4 separate regions of the Homo sapiens genome follow, and all the other regions are linked to region 1. The links come from fine-mapping of genetic effects on gene expression. A gene starts in region 1. Each other region holds a variant in brackets. All regions are shown on one strand. Distances are from middle to middle.

Region 1 (5,154 bases):
TAGGAGAAAATGCCATTTTTTGACAGCACTAGTAAAATTTCTAGTTATAACATTGGTCACACTTAAGTCTCATGCCCATCCACATATCAATCATTTGAGCCAGGGGTTGGTTGATTCCTGGGTCATTACGTCCACCCTGGAGCCGGGGACAGGGGCAGCCCACCAGCACCACAGGATCGAGGAAGAAGTGGTTCCCTAGAAAGATGATGAATGGGGCATAAAAGAAGTCCTCTATTAGAAAGCCTGAGTCCTATGCTGTTCTCAGTTAGAATCCCAACCTTTCTTTCCACTGTCAGCACCTTGAGACAATAGAGTTGCCTTTCTCTTCTTGGGGAGGAGTCTGATTGCATTCTGTAATTAAGAGTTTGCATCCAAATCACATATCCTAACAGAAGTTCTTCTTACGAATTAGCAGTGCTATGCCAAAAGAAAGTTGTCTTTTCACCGTAAACTATGCAGAACACCTGACTTAAGCTAGGATTTCATTCCTAAACGTCTGAAGATTTAAATTTCATGCCTGCCTGTGTTGCTTGCAGGATTACTCTGGTCAGATCATTTAACCTTCTGGTGGCCTCTGTGTCCTTACCTCTAAAATCAAGGGTGTGGGAGGATTGTCTCTTGCAGCTTTAACATTCTTTGAATCTGATCAACAGAAGATGGAGGAAAAAAGTTCTTCCAAACCTGGTCTATCAACTGCTATAGTGAAGGTCCACAAAATGAAGTTTTACATTTTTTTTTCAGATTACATATCAATTTTGGTTCTATGTTTGTTTCTTCAATATTTTTGGTGATAATCTAAAATGGAGATTTCATCAGTCTGCAAGCACTGGGTTCATATTATCTTTTCCTTATTTCCTTTGCCTTTAGCTTCATTACTTTTTTTGTTTATTATTTTTTAAATTGACAACTAAAAATTATATATACTTATGGTGTACCACATGATGTTTTGATATAAGTATGCATTGTAAAATGGCTAAATCAAGGAATTAACCTATTACCTCACATACTAATTTTTTTTGTGGTGAGAGCACTTAAAATCTAATCTTAGCAATTTCCAAATATACAATACATTGTTATAACTATGGTCATCATGCTGTACAATAGATCTCTTGAGCTTATGCCTCCTAACTGAAATTTTGTATAGCTATGTTACTTTTAATATTAAATGTGGATTCTGTAAAATCCCAGTTTTTACAAAATGTATTAGGAGTAACATAATAAGAGCCTCATAAATTAATTTTTTCAGAAAGAAAGCTGTTCATTTACCTAGGACTTTTATTTAAAATACATATGTTCTTTGAAATGAAAGAAAAGCTAATGTTTCTCCATTTATTCTAACTTACAAATTAAGCTGTAAAAGAAAACCACAATAGAAATTGCGTAAATTACCCTTAAGAATCAGCCAATTTTTACCACATACTTTCATTTGGTACACCTTAGGTTTCCTTATGTTTCCATTCACATACTACCATTACATAAGGTTTTACTTTTTTTTTTTTTTTTTTGTCTTTGAGCCCTTCAAGTGAAGTTACCATTGAAAATCAAACAATACCTGTCCAGTGTTGTAAATTAAATATCGTGTAGTTTGATATCATATACCTGCCTTTCCATATCAGCCTTTCATTAATTATAAGTACAAACACCAAAATAATTGTTATCAAGCCCCACAGTAGTTTTTAACTTCAGTTTTCAACTTAATTCTCATTATCCCATACTTTTAAACAGAAAAAAGTTTTAGTACATATATTACCTGGAAGTAATTCTAATCTGTTCCAATAACTAAATAGCTGAGGCTTCTGGGTTAGATATGGTTATCTTCTACTGTTCAAATTTTTAATACAAAGCATGAATGTTAAATTTGTATATAACATTATTACAAAATGACACTGGTAACATGAAATCAGAACAACATTCTTTCCCGAGTACCTAGTACTTACCCACAAGGCATTGTAGATTTCTTTTCATTTAAAGAGTGGATAACAATCTTGGAGTAGATAACAATGAAAACCTAGAAAAAAAAACCCACCTCCTGTTTTTATTGAGTCAAACAAGCAGAACTTTGATTGGAAAGTCCCATTTCATATATTACACTGGTAGTATTTTCTTCTAACGAAAAAAAAAAAGCCCTTGTGCCACCACCTTGACATGTACTTAAACGTTTACCCAAATCACTTAGGCATTGCTTCTCAAACTTGGCTGCATAGCAGAATTGCCTGGAGGGTTTTTAAAAACACAAATGCCTATGTCTCACTCCCTGAAATTCTCCTTTAATTGGTACGAGGCGGGGCTATTCTAGGAACTATTTTCTATCCCTTGGCAATTAGCCATCTGTATAGTATTTTTAACTTCCTACGTGTTATTAACTGTAAGACTGTTTGAATTGTCAGGTCTTTGTGGTGAGCTGAATTCTGCATGGCAGTGCTTACTGTGCAGAAAGGTTGCAATGCCTCACTTTGCCTTAATCCATGTTCCTCTAACTTCCTTACTCTTTCTCTCAAGAGGAGGCAAGTGGCTGTGGCGGCCGCAGCAGTGGCTGATCATCACTGAAAATACCAAAGAAAAGAACTGAGCTGCCTCCTTCATATTTTTTCCATTGAGGATTAATTTACCGTGCTTTTTCATTTTCTCTACATCCTGCAAAAGTTTTTTTCTCTCCTAAGAAACAAACTATGAACTGATTGTTGAAAAAAAGAAGTAAAAAGTTTTAGCACAGCTTCTCTGTCTCTTCGGGACAAGTTAGAAAATTCTGAAGTGAGCCGAAGCATAGTAAGTGCTTTCTTTCTTTTTAAGCTACTTCTGGGGAGGGAGGAGGCTATTGTAATGGTAAATTTCACTCCGAGAGGAAGAAAGGGTTGATAATCAATCAAAAATGAGGTATTCCTTTGAGTATTTGTGATTTTCTTACTATATTGTAAGATGCTTTTAATTTTCTCTGTAAAATAGGCAGAAATGGTTTTAGTGTGTGTATGTGTGAAATAAAAGCTCAGAAAAGCAATCTTCAGAGCGCCACTGAAGGAAGTTTTGACGAACGGAGTAGAGATGTATACCACTTGGGGGCTTCAGTGAGAACCCAGAATTCCTGGAGGAGGATTTACATTCAGAAATGTTGAAGTGAAAATTCCTTCTGGTTCAGCATCTTGGAGTTCAGCTTGGAAGAACATTTTACGTATGGAAGAATTTGCTTCTCCAAACCTCTCTTTTGGCCATTGTGTGTCCTGAAGGATGGGACAACTTGTGCTGTAGAAGCACTGCTTGCCTGAGTTTGCTTCAGGCATTTTAAATTTAACTTGAGGGATCATGTGTTTGGCATGATGAGGACCACTGAAGACTTCCACAAGCCTAGTGCCACATTAAACTCTAACACGGCCACCAAGGGAAGGTACATTTATCTGGAGGCATTCCTGGAGGGAGGAGCTCCCTGGGGTTTTACTCTAAAGGGTGGCCTGGAGCACGGAGAACCATTAATCATCTCTAAGGTATGTTTCTTTTTCCAATATTGCCTTTATTCAAATTGTTTTTTTCAACTTGTCAGATTTGTCAAAAATGCAAAATAATGAGAACTGCCTTAATATAACTTAATTTGCTGTTTCATGCCTTTCTGATTATCTAGAAATATTTTGGATAGCCTGGGATTTGAAAGAAAAATGTGTCTAGCTCATTTATTCTATGAAATCCGAAGAAAAATATGCCTGTTTGATGGATAATCTTCTCTTTTTGTGAATGAAATCGCATACAATCAGTTACCACATGAGCTTTTCAGTTATAAATCAGATTAAAGATTAATAACATGGTTAAGATGGTGGCATGGTATATATTTGTGCATTCAAAAATATCTGCTTTTTCTCTCTTCAACTGAAAATAGCATCTAAAAATATTTTAAGTTTGCTTATAATTCTGGATAATAGATTGCATAAATACCATGTGTTGCTTTTTTTCCCCACACTCAGAAAGGAGAATTAAATCAGCTTTCAGCATAACTCAAGATCAAAACATTTCTGCCTCTCCTATTTATCTGTATATTTGAATCCCTTTTTAAACCTTAGTCATCCTGCAGCATACCTCAATTCTTCATTTATCTTTTGGTGTGGGTAGTCATACCAATGAAATATTTATGTACTGGGGTTAATATTTCTATTTTTCTCTTAAACTACAGATTAACATTACTTGTTATAATATTGCTTTTAAATTTTTAGAGTATTTAATAGTCTGATACAATAGATTATAATGGCTTTTCACACATGTGCATTCATCAAGAAACATTTGTAATTAAGGGAGAAAAAATTTTTAATTTGAGGGTGGGAAGAAGGTAATATGGATTGCATTTGAGCTCTGTTATTGGTTCAGGTTACTTTTCATATCCCCAGAAATAATTCCAAAAGGTTATTTTTCAAATTACTGAAGTAATTCTTACTGTGGATGAGCCAGGGAGAACTGGGTTTCACAGTGATAAGCCACGAGTGCACGGGACACCATTATAAGTTGTATGACTTTTCCTTAACTTTCTTAAGTAAAACAAAAGGATGTGCATATGTGTGTGTCAGTTAGGAAGGCTTCCCCCTGTGAAAAAAATTCAAAACCGAGTTTATAGTGGCTCTCAGTAAATTGGGGTTTGTTTTTCTCATATTACAAGAAGTTTGGAGGTAGATTTTCCAGGCAAGGGGAGCAGCAGCTCAATAATGTGATCAAGGACCCCACTTATCTCTCCACTCTGCCATTCTTATGATGTTGGCTTTGTCTTCATGGTTGCATGATGGATCCCACAACTCCAGCATTGATTGCATCTTCATTCCAGACAGGTTTTTGGCTTTTTGTTTCTCATTAGACCTTTGCTTTCATCTCATTAACCAGAACTGTACCCTGTGCCTGTCTTTAGGCCAATCACTGGTAAGAAATGCCAGTGATTAATACAGACTGATTAGGATTTCTTTCACAGGTTTCTACAATAAGGACCTACTCTTCCTGAAGTCAAGGAATCATTGCCCACTGTTTGAATGATTTGAGGTTCTTTTTGCAGGAAGAAAGAGGGCATGGTTGCTGAATAACAGATAATTCTGCAATGAACATAAATATTGTCTCGGCATTTAAAAAGTCTAGTTGTACACAATTTGCCTGTCCCTTAATGATAAAATATTCTGTATCTATACACTACAGTAT
Region 2 (5,154 bases), 290 kb after region 1:
ATGCATACATGGTTATTTATATTAATCCAGATACATTTATATATGTTTAAAATGTTTCATAAGCAAGGCATAGGGGTACGTGCTATAGTCCTAGCTACTTAGGAGGCTGTGATGGGAGGATTGTTTGAGCCCAGGAGTTCAAGGCTGCAGTACGCTATGATCATGCCACTGCACTCCAGCTTGGGTGACAGAGTGAGACCCTGCCTCAAAAAACGATTTCATAATTTTAAAAATACATGAGGAAAAATGGGGAAAAACAGCAGTGGCATGTAAAAAGAATCTTTAAAAACAATGCTTTACTATTCACAATAGCAAAGACATGGAATCATCCTAAAGGGCCATCAATGACAGATTGGATAAAGAAAATGTGCTACCTATACACCATGGAATACTATGCAGCCGTAAAAAAGAATGAGATAATGTCTTTTGCAGGAACATGGATGGAGCTGGAGGCCATTATCCTTAGCAAACTAACGCAGGAACAGAAGACCAAATTCTGCATGTTCTCATAAGTGGGAGCTAAATGATGAGAACACATGGACATATGGAAGGGAACAACACACACTGGGGCCTACTTGAGGGTGAAGGGTAGGAGGAGAGAGAAGATCAGAAAACATAACTATTGGGTACTAGGCTTAGTGCCTGGGTGATGGAATAATCTATATAACACCCCCAGTCCATGACACAAGCTTACCTATATAACAAACCTGCATGTGTACCCCTAAAATTAAAGTTAAAAAAAAAACCAGTGCTTTATCCCCAGCTAAGCACAGTGTTCAATAAGAATATGATGAAGATCTACAATTCAAATATTTGAAATTTTAATTTAATAGACCTAATTTGCAGAATATATTGATGTATTTTGTTTCTTTTTTGGGGGATATGGGGGTGTTTGATTAGAACTTTCTTATGATGGACTTTGTCTCATAGTATTGCGCACTAAACAATAATGGATGGAGAGGTTGATGGGTTAGTAAGGGGTTTAAGAAATATGGTAACTTTTATTTTGTGGTGCTGGTAGTCTGAGTATATTTTGTATTCTTATACACTTGACTCGGGTCCAGTTGATAACTGGCAGAGTTTTATAACACTGCACCGAGAAGAGCCCATGCAACATGTGTCATAACAGTTCGTTAAAGAATAGCATCAACAAAAAAATTAGTTCTTAGAATTTTTTATTTTCCAACTAATAGTTGTCACTTTCTCCATTTATCCAAAGCATACCAATCTTTCAAGGTCATCTGAAGTCCCACTGTACTACTAAGCCTTCTGGCTGACTTCAGACCCCATTCATGTGAGCTTTTTGTATCCAAAATGCCTCTACAGCCTCGGTGGCCCAATATGATCTGAATTTTATACCATCTGCTCTTCACTCACAAGGCTCTGGCTATACTCTCTTGTATTCTTTAAAAACCCAAACTCATTCCTCCTCTCAAGGATTTTGCATTCATTTTTCCTTTGGAGCTATATATTCTTCTCCTAGCTCTTTGCATGGTTAATTATTTCTTATCATTTAGGTCTTGGTTTGAATGTCACTTGCTCATAGAGGCTGTCTCTGACTTAAATGGGGACTTTCCATCACACTCTCACATTACCCAGTTTTATTTCCTTCAGAACCCTTATAACTATATGAGAATATCTTGTTTGATTTGCTTACTTGCTTACTCCCTGTCTCCCTCCTCTGCCTCTCCCACCTCATTGCACAGTGCTCCTTACTTGCAAATTAAAAGCACAGGCTCTGGAGAGAGATGCCTGGGTTTAGTAGCTGTGCTGCTCACTACATTTGTGACAGTGAACACATTGTTTATTCTGTATTTACCTCACTTTCCTCATTAATAGTCCTGTATCATAAAGGTAATATAAAGGCTAAGTGAGAAAATACTCGTCAAGTGCCTAGAATGGTGGTTGGCACTCAGTAGGCACTCAAATATTTTTTGAGTGAATGAATGATGCTCTGACTTTGTTTAATAGTTTTTCTTGCATCTGAGCCTCCCCAGCAAGATTATAAACTCTTAGGCCTTCCAAGACCTTGCAGAGCTCCAACTATAATTTAACAAGGTTGAAGGCACATAGGTGATTAGTGAATACTGCTTAAAATACTGAACTTACTGTAGATTTCTCAGAAACTTG[T/G]TTTGCATTCCTGAATCTCTCTGTGTTAGGGCAAAATCATCTAAGAAGGACATCATGTCACTTGCGAATTCCAGTTTCATCAGCCTACCCATCCCACGCAGTTAAGCTTCCTTGTTTGTGGTTAGGAATGCAACAAAAGGGCTTTGTTTGAATTACACCCACACACAAAACTTAGTTTGCTAAATTTTAAAATTAAACCATCTTCTGACTTACTGATATGCTCATGATGTGATGTACTTTAGGAAAATATTTCTTTAAGTTCTTAAAGATCAAAGTGATCCCAAAATGTAAAATTAGTATGCCATGCTCTTTAGGAATGCTTATTAAATGTTTCGCATCATTGAGAAAGTCAGCTGTTTAACTGAAAAAATAGCTGTTTAATTTTTTTTTTTTAACTCTCAAGCTACAGTGAATTGTATTTTCAAAATGAAAGACTATTTTAAAAATACTTTGCTTTTCAATAGGTAATACATGCGTATAGTATAAAATTTGAAAAGTTACAAAATGAAATACAGTGAAAATAAGTTTTCCTTCCCAGAGGCAGTCATTGTATCTAGTTTCTTAAGTGTCCTTCCAAAACTACTCTTTACGTTAATATACACACATGTGATTTTCCCCACATACTGTAGCAGACTGTACATGTAATTCTGCATCTTTCCAGTGTAACAATATATTTGGAGATATTTCCATATCAGTATGTATAGAGATACTTCATCCTTTTTAACAGCCATTATATGGATATACCACACTGAGTTAACTAGTCTGCTGCTAATGGGCATTTAGGTTGTCTTCCAATCTTTTGATGGGTATGTTATTTTAAAAATCATTTGCTAGATGTTGTCAAACTGGCCTTCATTCAGGTTGTACTGATATACACTGGTGGGCTATTTTTGGTCATCCTTTTCAATTCTTCGCTTATTTCATCACTTACCTCCTATCTGTACGGTATGGAAGAATCTTATAAAACAAAGATTTATCTCCGAAGCCCTCTCCCAACATATCTTCTGCATCTAAAAGAAAAGTTGTTTTTTGTTTTTTTTTCCTCGTGTTTTTGTTTTTTTCAGGGCCTTTTGATTTGCTTCCCCCTCCCCACCCCCACCGCCAAAATCATCCTGTCATCTTGTTCTTAATCTATTAGAACTGTGATGAAACCTGATACTCTGCCCAGGGCAAATAAATAGTTACCTCTCCAACCTCCTCCAAAGTAAAAGCTCCAAAGTTGAGTTTGCTGTCTTTGTATTGCAGGTATTGGACCTACTTTCTAAAGCACTTATTTTATCTGTACTGTAGGAATTATTTCATTTGCTCTTTCCTGCAGAATGTAAGCTCCTTAAAGGCAGAGACAATATCTTAGTCATTATTTCTTTAAAATATCTCTTTAAAATTTGTTTAATTTTTTATTTTCTTAAATGGACATTTAATTGTACATATTTATGGGGTACATAATGATGTTTCAGTACAAATAATGTATAGTGATGAGATAAGGATAATTAAATATTTTTAAATATCAGTTTCAACTCTTCTAGTCCTCATGTACCACATCCCTGGAGCCCGATCCCGTGTGTCACCTCCCTCACTTCTCCCTCTTCCAGGTTAGGTTCATCATGAAAACAGAGGACATTGGGTACGAGGTCCCCTCAACTTTTCGTGCTACCTACTTGCTTTCACATTTGCCAGCATCCACCTTTCTTCTATCTCAACAGCACTGGCTTTCCTCCTCCATAAGCTCATACCCTTCACCTGAGTGTTTGAATCCCATCCCTTCCTGAGTCTTTAAGGAGTCCTCCTCCTGTGTCCTGTGTCTTCAGATGGGCCTCTGCACGCTCTCTGCCTTATAGACACTTGCTTGAACTTCTCATTTAAAACAAAAACATTAGGAACAAAACCTTTTCACTCCCTGGATCCCTTCAGTCTTCTAGCTACCACCCTCTTCTCCCCTTTAGAAACAGGTTTTTGAAGGAATCATCTGCCCATACTGCCTGTCTTATCCCTTGTTCACCTTTAGCCCCATCCTAAAGCATGCCATTGCAAGGACTTGCTAGTTGCCAAATCCAGTGGCCATGCATCTACCCTCATCACACTAACCTCTTTACAGCATTGCAGTGGTTGACAGTTTCCTCCTCCTCCTCACTCTCCCCACTAGAAATCTGTGAGACTCCCATACTTAACTTGTTTTCCTCCTCCTTCTGTGGAAGCTCCTCTTGGGCTTTTTCCCAGGCTCCCTCTCCCCTAAATTTTGATCATTCTCAGAGACTCATCCTTAAATCATTTCCTTTGTCTCCCTGTTCATTCTCCTCAAGTCACTTATCTTCTCTCAAAGGCCCTGTGTTTTGTGACTTGTAAATTTCTATATGCAGCCCAGCCCTCAGTCCTCTAGTCCTTCTCCACTGAAAGTCCCACAGGCACTCATTCGCATGCCCCAGAATGAGCCATCAGCATCCTGCTTATTTCCTCTTCTCTCTCTCCACTCCCATCCCCTCCATCTAAAAAAAAAAAAAAAAAAAAAATTTAAGAGACTGTCTCTCTGGAAGCTGCAATGCAGTGGCACACAGTCATTGCTCGCTACAGCTTCAAACTCCTGGGTTCAAGTGATTCTCCTGCTTCAGCCTCTGAGTAGTGGGGACTACAGGTGGATGCCACCACACCCAGCTAATTAAAAAAAAAATTGAGCCCCCTGCCTCAGCCTCCCAAGTAACTCAGCTTATAGGCACAAGCAAACTAGAGGGCCTATCTGGAACCCCTGAAGTTATCAGTAAACGTTGTCTCACACCTCATCTCCTTGACAGGAAGACATCTTTTTTCCTGTGGAGCCTGTGGAATTTATCACTTTCTATTTCTCTTGGGTGGGAAAATCTTCTCGGCATCTAGCTAGGCATGGACAGATACTGTTGGGTGATGATGCCACTGAAGAGCCGTCCTTAGTGTCACGTGGTGCTGGTCTGAGGTCACGGTCCATTGGTGTCCATTGGCTTCTCAAGGCCAATACCCAGTCCCGGGGCTAATTTCTACTACTGAGAGTGATTC
Region 3 (5,154 bases), 210 kb after region 1:
TGTAACAGGGTAAGGATGACTGCGATTGGGTCTCAAATTAGAACAAGGGCCAGGATTTGAGGTGTTCAAGGAATTCAAAATAGACGTGATTGGATTTGAATGGTTGACAGCTTTCTTGAATATGCAGTATGACGCCACTGGGATTTTGAGATGATGGGATTAAGCAGGTTGGGAGGAGGCCAGTCACTGGAGGCAAAGGCTCAGGATTAGGAATGCTCTTGTGGTTCTTGGGGAATAGTGAATGGACCATAGTGGCAGGATGAGGCCAATGTGTGAAGGGACAAACAAAGTTGTTTGAAATTTAAACTTTTGGCAATGGGAAACCACTGAAGCCATTTAAGCCGAACTGTAAAGAGATAAAAGGAAAATTCAAAAGAACTGAATCTAGGTAATAGGTTAGAGCATGAGGTGCCAGGAACAAGGGCTCTATGAAGGAATGGAAGCCAATACCCATGAGTGTGTGACAAAATGCTGATCTGGGTGGGGGAGGAGGGTAGTGGGAATAAATGTTAGGATTCTGGAGTATTTGTGGGGGAGGGGAGATTTGAGATTAATGTATCATTTGTATCCAGAGTTTTCTCTCTAAATGAGGTTAAAAGAATGGGCCAGGAGCAATGGCTCATGCCTGTAATCCCAGCACTTTGGGAGGCCGAGGCGGGCAGATCACCTGAGGTAGGGAGTTCAAGACCAGCCTGACCAACATGAAGAAACCCCCATCTCTATTAGAAATACAAAAGTAGCCGGCCGTAGTGGTGCATGCCTTTAATCCCAGCTACTCGGGATTACAGTAGCTGAGGCAGGAGAATTGCTTGAACCTGGGAGATGGAGCTTGTGGTGAGCCGAAATTGCACCATTGTACTCCATCGTGCCATTTTTTGAGATGCTGTCTCAAAAAAAAAAAAAAAAAAAGAATGATGGCTAAACTCTTTATTAGGTGTTTGTTAAATGCCAGTCACTGTTCTAGGCATTTTACAAACAGTAGCTCAATTCATCCTCAGAACACCCCTTTGTAGTATTATTATTGGCCCCACTTGACAGATAAACTGAGGCACAGAGCAATTAAAGCACTTGCCCAAGGTCATACAGTTATAAGACAGAGAGACAGGATTCAGACCAGGATGTAAGTCTGCCAAGGCCCAAATATTAACCACAAATGCCTGCTTCAGCAGGTTCATGGGAAGATTTAAGGTATGATGAAAGGGGTTCTAAACAGTGATGTTTGTTATCATTTTGAAAGGAGACCAGAGAAGCATTTCCTGCATCCATTTTCCTATCATCGTTAATTGCCTACTCACACACAGTTTAAGGTTATCAGTATATAGTAAAATTTAAAATCTGTAATAGGATAATGTTTCTTATTTTGCCTTTTAAACACTGATTTTTCTCATTTAAAAATTAGTATTTGTTATAAAAATTCAAATCTTACAGAAATAACAGATATACAGTGAATATCCCATGAAATCTTAATTATCCTCCTACCCCCAAATCATTATTTACTGTTGGGTAGAAATTCCTCCAGCTCTTTTCTTTTTTTTAATCTGAGACGGAGTTTTGCTCTTGTTGCCCAGGCTGGAGCGTAATGGCACGTTCTCAGCTCACTGCAACCTCGATTTCCTGGGTTCAAGCCATTCTCCTGCCTCGGCCTCCAAAGTAGCTGGTATTACAGGCATGTGCCACCACGCCTGGCTAATTTTGTATTTTTAGTAGAGACAGGGTTTCACCATGTTGGTCAGGCTGGTCTCAAACTCCTGACCTCAGGTGATCTGCCCTCCTCGGCCTCCCAAAGTGCTGGGATTATAGGCATGAGCCACCACACCCAGCCCACCTCTTTTCTTTTATATATATAGGCTGCTGTATTACCATCATTTATGTCAATAGTAATCCTTTTTTCCAAAAGGTGATCATACTGTTTTGTAACATGCTTTTTCTTTTTCTTTTTTTTTTTTTTGGCAGAGTTTTTGCTCTTGTTGCCCAGGCTGGAGTGCAATGGCATCATCTCAGCTTACCACAACCTCTCTCCCGGATTCAAGCAATTCTCCTGCCTCAGCCTCCCGAGTAGCTGGGATAACAGGCATGCGCCACCATGTCTGGCTAATTTTTTGTATTTTTAGTAGAGATAGGGTTTCTCTATGTTGGTCAGGCTGTTCTCGAACTCCTGACCTCAGGTGATCCGCCCACCTCGGCCTACCGTAACAAGCTTTTTAATTTAATAAATAGGACAGCTTTCCATGTCAGGACATACGGGGTTTTTTTTTTTTAACTTTTATTTTTAATTGAAACATAATAATTACATATATTTAAGGGATACAATGTGATGATTTGATACATGTATACATTGTGTAATAATCAAATCAGGGTAATTAGCAAGGATATACACTTTTATATTATTTCCTTTAAAAGTTATATAGGATTCACTTTCACTTTCAGCATCATTTCATCTGGATTCACGTTCTTTTGCAATTACCAGAGCAACA[T/G]ATCTGATGTGACCTAGATTCTTACCTCAATGCCATTTTTGTTCCTTTTGTGTCTTGGACAGGACTTAAGGAGAAGCAAGTTCAAATGGGGTTCAGTTTTCTGTTTCTGTGAAAACAAGAAAAGCTAGTACTTATGTAGTACTTATGTAGCACTTATGAGCCAGCAACTATTCCTAGCTCCATTGTACAGATAAGGAGACTGAGGCCTAGAGAGATTAAGTAATTTACTTGCTCAAGGTCATACAGTTAGAAAGTCAGAACTTGAACCCTGGCTCTTTGACTCCAAAGCCTGTATATTTACACCACACTGTCTCTTTATCTCTTTTACAAGTCTTTTACCTAAACTAATTAATATGAAGTGGCTTCCATAGCATTATGCAGTCAACCATGGTGTAAAAGTCAATAAAGATAAGCCCTACCACTTATCTCTGTGGCTCAACTAGCAGCAGAAAGCAGGGAGTTGTCTGAAGGAGCAGCTTCATTTCGGCTGTTTCTCTCTCCAGCCTCTCCCCACCGGTCACTGTTAGCCTCGAGTTTGACCCTCAACATCCCCAGAGGATGCCTCCTAGGACTCGAACCTCATTTAGTGTCTCTACTGCTGATGGACGCCATGAGTGGAGCTGTCGACCACCTTGGGTGAAGTGGTGGTCTCCACGTCCCACCTGGGCAGCACGATGGCCACAGAAAGGTTGTATCTACCCCACCCAGCACAACACATGCAGAAATTTCAAAAGAGCCTATTTAAGTAGATGAGCATAGATAGATAATTCTGGGAGAACATCCTTAAAAGGAGTTTGGTTTTTTGTTTGCTTTGTGTGGGTTTTTGTCTAAATAAACTAGACTGCTTTAATATACTGCCTCTTTTAATGAAATAAAGTAATTGTTTCCTTAGCTGTGTGCTAGGAAAGCCAATACAAAGACATATAAGAAAAACCCCACAGACCTAGATTCTTAAAACCATTCATATTTGATCCCATTCTCAAGATATCTCATTATATACATGCAAATAGTCCAAAATCTGGAAAAATCCCAAATCCAAAACACTTCTTCTTCCAAGAATTTCAGATAAGGGTTACTTAGCCTGCCTCATACTCCCCAAAATAGGCATCTTCATAGAACTTCAGGGTGAGAAGGGGACCGAAGATTTAAGAAGTTCCATTTCTTCTCTGATACATTTTCCAACAGTCCCCCAAAGTGGGCAACTAGCTTCCATCTGAACACAGTCAAGGAAAGTGAACTCACTAAGTAGGAAAGCAGACTATTTCATTTTCAGAACCCGTTGAGGGAGGGGGAAGGGATAGCATTAGGAGATATACCTAATGTAAACGATGAGTTAACGGGTGCAGCACACCAACATGGCACATGTATACATATGTAACAAACCTGCATGTTGTGCACATGTACCCTAGAACTTAAAGTATAATAAATAAATATATATATATATATATATATAAAATTAAAAAAAAGAACCTGTTGAATTGCAACAGTGTTCTTCTTTATGGTAACTCCATATCTGCTGTCCCAAAACTTCAATTCTTTCATCCTTCTTAGACCAAACAGAAAACATCGAATAGTTTTTATACTTTACCACCTTCCAATCTTTAAGAATAGTCACCATTTCCTTGCCAAATTGTTTCTTTTCCAGGTTAAGGTCTTTAATTCAATCTTCACCTATTATTCCCATGTCATGATCTAGCATTTTGGACTGTTAAGGTCCCTCTTCTTTGATATGCCCTAAATTGTCCATGTTGCTCTCAGACTGTGACATTTATCACATAACACGGTACTTCAGGGAAGACTAGATAAGGACAGCCACTTACCTTGCTCTTGATGGTCTACTTCTATTAGATGTGCTAAGCTTAAGATTTCATCCAATTCTTTAAAAGCAGGGGAAATTAAGGAACTTTATTCTGGAAAGTTTGTAAAGAAATCAACCAGTCATGGAATGGCAATTATGAAAAGCACAAAAAATAACACATGTTGGTAAGTATGCAGAGAAAAGGCAACTCTTATACACTGTTGGTGGGAGCGTAAATTAGTCCAGCCACTGTGGAAAATAGTATGGCAATTTCTCGAAAAACTGAAAATAGAACTACCCTTTGAGCCAGCAATCCCACTACTGGGTATCTATCCAAAGGAAAAGAAATCAGTATATCAAAGGGATACCTGCACTCACATTTTGAGCGCTATTCACAATAGCAAGATATGGAATCCTAAGTGTTCATCAGCGGGCAAAAGGATAAAGAAAATGTATATACACATAGTGGAATACTATTTGGCCATAAAAAAGAATGAAATCATGTCATTTGCAGCAACATGGGTGGAACTAGAGGTTCTTAACGTTAAGTGAAATAAGCCAGGTAGAGAAAGACAAATATCATCGTATGTTTTCACTCATATGTGGGGGCTAAAAAAGTTGATCCCAGGGAGGTAGAGAGTCGAGTGTTAGATATTAAAGGCTGGGAAGGGTAAGTGGGTGAGTGGTGGTGATGAAGAGATGTTGGTTAATGGGTACAAACTTACAGTTAAAGGAATACGCTCTAATGTTCGACAGCAGAGTGGGGTGACTATAGTTCAAAACAATGTATTGTGTATTTCACAGTAGCTAGAAAAGAGACTTGAAAAACTCCCAACACGTAGAAATGATGAATACTCCAGGTGATAGATACCGTAAATACTC
Region 4 (5,154 bases), 190 kb after region 1:
GGGAACTTAGGGTCACCAGGCTGAGGAACCCGATGACCATCTTCCTGTGTAACGTTCAGTCTTTCATTGTAGTGAGGAGGCATTTCTCCACTCTTTAATGACTCTTTTAAATCATTCAACAGTCACTTCTACCCAGAAGCAGATGAAAGGATGAAGGGGCACTTTTCCCTGGGTCAGCAGAACAGCACCTTATCAGCACCATTATGTGATCTGAAGGGACTAGGATTAAAACCCTTAAGCATCCTGCCCTCCAGGGAAATGTGGAAACCTGAAGCAGCCCCTTATAACAGAAAGACTCTAGAAAAGTAAAGCTGGTTTCAGTGGGATTTCTGTGGTTTTCTCCATTGATTTTTCATTTCCACCTCCAAGAGCCTTTTATTGCCAAGTATTAAAAAAAAAAACAAAAAACTTCCTGTCAGTCAAGGGCAGAGTCTCAGCACTGCAGAGAGCCTCACACTGGGCTAACACCTGTCCCAGGAAGTTACCGAATGACAAGCTAAGGTGATCATCAGACTGTTCCAGAAACCCTATCAGGAGCTGCAGAGTCACCTGGTACATTAGCCCAGCAGGCCCAACATGTCCCTTCAGAGAGGCTGGACTAACGCTGATTAAGAGAAAACACAAACAGTACAAAGAAGGATTGCTAATAGGAATTATTTTACACACCTTTCTAGTTCACAAACCACCACCTTTGCACCAAAGCAAACTTGGGCTATTGAGCCTTGGAGGTTATTTATTTGTATGTGCAGGGCAGTGGTTTGGGTGAAGCTTGATTTTCTCACCATCATTCTTTCTTTTTCCTTCCACCTTAGGGAACAAACAGACCCTCTGTCACATTTTTATAAAGAGTAGTTGTCCTGGTGTTTTCAAAGTTGGGTTGTGCCTCAGAAACAAAACAGAAATTACAAAGAAGTGTGTGAAATGAATCAGTGTGTTAACATCTGAACTAATATGGAGTAAGTGTTTATGCTGCTTGTTTCAGAACTGCATATTCAGCATGAGATACAGGTCCCAGTTGCCTAAATAACATAGTTCCAGCGTTTTCTTTAGGTCTGAGACAGTTTGAATGTTCTTTTTTTTTTTTTTTTTGAGACAGAGTCTCACTCTGTTACCCAGGCTGGAGTGCAATGACACGATCTCCGGCTCACTGCAACCTCCACATCCCGGGTTCAAGCAATTCTCCTGCCTCAGCTTCCCAAGTATCTGGGATTACAGGCACCTGCTACCACGCCTGGCTAATTTTTATATTTTTAGTAGAGTCGGGGTTTCACCATGCTGGGCAGGCTGGTCTTGAACTCCTTACCTCAGGCGATCCACCCACCTCGGCCTCCCAAAGTGCTGGGATTGCGCACGGCTGAATGTTCTTCCATTCTTTATATCCCATTTAGTTTTGGGAAATTGGACGACTAGACCTAGTCGTGCTAGGGGCACTCCTATGCTTGATGTCAGAATTACTCATTTTCCCCTAGGCACTTTTTCTTTGTGAATTTATCTTTAAAGGACAGCCTCATCAGCATGGACTCATCTGGTACAATACTAGTTTGTAGAACCATAGCACTTGTATTCACTCTTACCTTCTTTTCCTGGAACCAAATCTTTTACTTGAATGTCAATAAAATGGCCCTTCTCAGCAACGGAACATTCTTGACTCCTGAGGCAGGGAAGGAAGCCAGGCACTTGTACATTTGTTTTCAAACGAACTGGTTCTTATGTTGTAAATATTTAACCATTCACCATAGTATTCCTACCAAAGTTTCCATTTGATTTTCAGTTAATTCCATTTCTCACAAGCAGATAAAGGCTCTTTCACTTTCCAGAACCCTCTTTTAAGCAAATATAGATTATATTTTTGGCTCAAGAAGGAACAAAAAATGGAATTTGGAAGGCATATTTTTTCCTTGGTTGAAGAAAGGAGGCCACGGGGAAGTAATTCCACCAAGAAAGTATAATGGGTGTTATGGTAAATCTTCATGATGGCCATGAATATTTTTATTGTTCCCTACCCTGTCTTTGCTTAAATTGCTAGAGTTGTGGCTAAAAGCAAAGCTGGGTTTTTTCTTCTCAGGTTTATAGCTTTGAGAGTCGGGAGGGAGGGACATTAAGTGTAAAAGCTACTGAAGAGGGCCAGGTGATCTTATCTCTTTAATGAAAATGACTGCAGACAGCTTCCTTCCAACTTTTGAGTTATCTGGGTTCCTGAGTGTCCATTTCTCACTGGTGTTTGCTCTTAGGATGAAACTTTAGGAATGCATTAGGCAAAAGATTATGATTTACAGCATACCACTGTTTACTGTTTTAGTAATATATTTGTTTTAGGGAAAAGACCTCCTTATAACACATTTCATGCTTTTGATTTAAGTTGTGACTCCTCTTTCAAGTTTGGGATATTTTGCTTCCAGGAGATGCATTTTGGTCTTTTCCTTTTCTTTTCTCTTCCTTTCTTCCTTCTTCCCTATAACAGGTATCTCCTGCTGCACCAAGTCTGTGGGCAACAATGCAAAAAGTCAACCAAAATCCAAAAGTCTAAGCTGATCCCTTAGTATACCAGTTTTAAGAATGTCTGGTGTCACTTGGACTACAAATGACTTTTAAAGTCAAAGACCATAAGCATGAGTCAAATTGGAAACATTACCTTGTAGAGCCAGTCTGTCTGCCTGGTCACTTAACAGTTTATAAAACTTGACTCCTAGCTAGAAAGTTAATTGCCAGAGGTTCCAAGGAAAGCACTGGACTACCACTCGGAATCCTCCATTTACTACATAGGCCAAATGATCTGGCTCTTTTCAAGGAGTTAGCATGAACATTCTACATTTTTCTTATCCAATATGCACAAATATTTCTTTGAAGAAAGATGACATTTTAAAGGTTCTTATTCAATTAAAACTTCCTAAAGCACTTTTTTTCCCCATTAACTGACAAACATGATACAGAACTATTTTCTTTCAAGATTATTATGCCTCTAAATCTTTTTCTGTCTCTTTCCTATTTAGCTTTGGATTTGCACAAAACACCCAAGCATTTTTCAGCAGTGTGAGCTGAGAGTGTGGAATTGAATGAACACGCCTGGGATTTGAAATGAGAGATCTGGGCGGGG[G/A]AAGGGGAGAAAGATATTCCTTGCATACTCATACGCCATAACTGAGGATTCTACATTTTCTTTCTAAAGCATACAGTGGAGATGGTTTATTTCTGAGAGAAATTCTATTTTAGTTTTGTTTTGCTTTTAACCACTATCATGTTTGTATTTGTCATTCTTGTACATGGATTTTAAATTTAGGTTATTTTAATTTTTCTAACCAAATATTTTTCAAATATCCGCTTATGTTGGAGAGAAAAGGACATTCCAAAAGAGTTACCTATAGTGTTTTTAACACATAATTAAAATGATCATAAAACCTTCACATGTGCTTTTTATTTCTCATTAAATGCCAGAGGGAAAGGCAATTGCAGGCGTGTAGTATTCCGACATTTCAGCGTGCTGCACTCCTGTCCTTCCGTCGTCTGGGGCCACATCTGTGATCACTGTCTTGTGCTTGCCAATAGAGGTTTTCTTCTGGATGCTGTGTCTGCTCTTGGTCTTGTGGCTTTAACACCGAAGAGCTGTTGTCTACAAAAGACAGTACATTAGAGCTCCAGAGTTCACTCAGCTGCCTGCTTTGCTCCCGTGGTGACTTCATTCTTGGGAAGTTTTTAGGTTTCCTGGGAGATGAAGCATGAGCAACATTTGCTCCAGCCTGAGTAATTTCAGAAGGCCTTGAGTCCTGTTTTGTTATTCGGGTTTCCAAGGGTGGGTGAGGGGCATGAGAATTCCCAGCAGTTACCACTACACGTGAATACTGGTATCTGGCGACTCTCTGTTACGTTTTTAAAAAGAGTGGTTATCGTGGTGTTTTTAAAGTGGGACTGTGCCTCAGAAGCCAAACAGAAATTATAAAGAGGTGTCTGAAATGAATCAATGTGTTAACATCTGTACTAATATGAGTGTATATGTTGCATATTCCAGAGCTGCCTCAAATTCTTTTAGGATTTAATAATATTGAACATTGGAAAGATTGAATTAAAGCCAGGTAAGACTTGCTATGTTTACAAAATTGTTTGATGTGGTCTACAATGGATTTTAGTATTTTTCTGAGTTAAAAAGAATAATAGCATATGCTTCATAATTTTTGCCTTTATGACCTATTGTTTCTTCATTAACCTCAGTACAATGATATTATATTATTATTGGAATTGAAAAGGTTCCTGTGTAAGCCTTGCTTGGTAATTCAAGTACCCTTGAATTGTATAAGGAGAGCGCAGATATTTTAATGCCAGACTCCTAGTTTATGCAGTACTTTTGGGCTGTAGTTCCCATGTTAAATGAGATGATCAGCCAAATCTTTGCTTTGCCAGGAACCAAAATCATTTCCAAACTACAATAGCAGTATGGTTACAGTTTCAGCTTCATCAGCCCCAAAGTAAATTCTAATAGGTGCTATTGAACATAGTTTAAAATATCCTGGTGAGAAACTATAGGCCTTAAATATTCTGTTTTCAAATTTTTTACCTAACCCCAAATAGCTAGCTTCTTAGTTTTATACAGCTATGCCAAAATAAAATACAACAGAACATTCTTCTTTTGGGGATATGAAACAAATCTTTTCATTTTCAACAGTGATAACCAATCTTCTGTCTCCCTCCCTCTCCCTCAACCCCTCACTTCCCTCCCTCTCCTTCTCCCTCTTTAGTCCCTCCTCCCACCCAGCCTCTCCCTCTGTCTGTCTTTTCTTGCATTACCTAAAGCCCTCATTGCTCACATCTCATCAAGATAAAGTCAAGATTTACACACAATATAGGAAGTGTTTCTCTCCAGCCTCATACCTGACCACAGCATCCTTCCTTTCCTACTTCACACTCCAATCGCCGAGAACCATGTCCAGTTCCTGAGCATACCATACTTTCTGCCTCTTCCTATGTGTTACTTCTCTAACTAGAAGGCTTATCCTCCCCTCTCTAAAGGCTGGCAAATATTCTCATGACATCATGTCTTTGTCTACCCCTATAACTAACCATATTGTATTTAAACTTCTCTCTTCCTTTTTAGACTCTAAGCAACTTGTGAGCAAGGACTGTTTCCATCTCGCTCACTATTATACTTAGAGCCTAGCACAGTGCCTG

Alleles and levels. Positions count from the first base shown, and alleles are read on the strand shown. Sizes are in standard deviations (SD) of each study's normalised expression. Not every link is listed here.
With allele G in place of A in region 4, the expression in sun-exposed skin of the gene that starts at base 2,485 in region 1 is lower (small effect, 0.23 SD a copy in GTEx).

What was found. PIP is the estimated chance that this variant, and not a neighbour inherited with it, causes the effect. A credible set is the group of variants that fine-mapping cannot tell apart.
Region 2: its variant is the best candidate, but not a certain one, in a credible set for the expression of SHROOM3 in tibial nerve (GTEx, PIP 0.73).
Region 3: its variant is the best candidate, but not a certain one, in a credible set for the expression of SHROOM3 in cerebellum (GTEx, PIP 0.61).
Region 4: its variant is the best candidate, but not a certain one, in a credible set for the expression of SHROOM3 in sun-exposed skin (GTEx, PIP 0.54).

The regions. Positions count from the first base shown.
Region 1 is chr4:76,432,745-76,437,898 of GRCh38, forward strand. SHROOM3 (shroom family member 3) reads left to right here and starts at 2,485. Exons shown (of 11, transcript NM_020859.4): 1 at 2,485-3,476. The coding sequence starts at 3,309.
Region 2 is chr4:76,721,927-76,727,080 of GRCh38, forward strand. The region is part of intron 3 of SHROOM3 (shroom family member 3); the gene reads left to right. All of the region lies in intron 2 of SHROOM3-AS1 (SHROOM3 antisense RNA 1), which reads right to left. Among named protein-coding and RNA genes, the nearest start is that of SHROOM3-AS1, 78 kb to the right of the region's middle. The variant T/G (reference allele first, on the strand shown) is at 2,131.
Region 3 is chr4:76,642,322-76,647,475 of GRCh38, forward strand. All of the region lies in intron 2 of SHROOM3 (shroom family member 3), which reads left to right. LOC105377290 (a long non-coding RNA gene) reads right to left here and starts at 4,554. Exons shown (of 4, transcript XR_001741404.2): 1 at 2,500-4,554. The variant T/G (reference allele first, on the strand shown) is at 2,475.
Region 4 is chr4:76,620,759-76,625,912 of GRCh38, forward strand. The region is part of intron 2 of SHROOM3 (shroom family member 3); the gene reads left to right. The region is part of intron 3 of LOC105377290 (a long non-coding RNA gene); the gene reads right to left. Among named protein-coding and RNA genes, the nearest start is that of MIR548AH, 48 kb to the left of the region's middle. The variant G/A (reference allele first, on the strand shown) is at 3,095.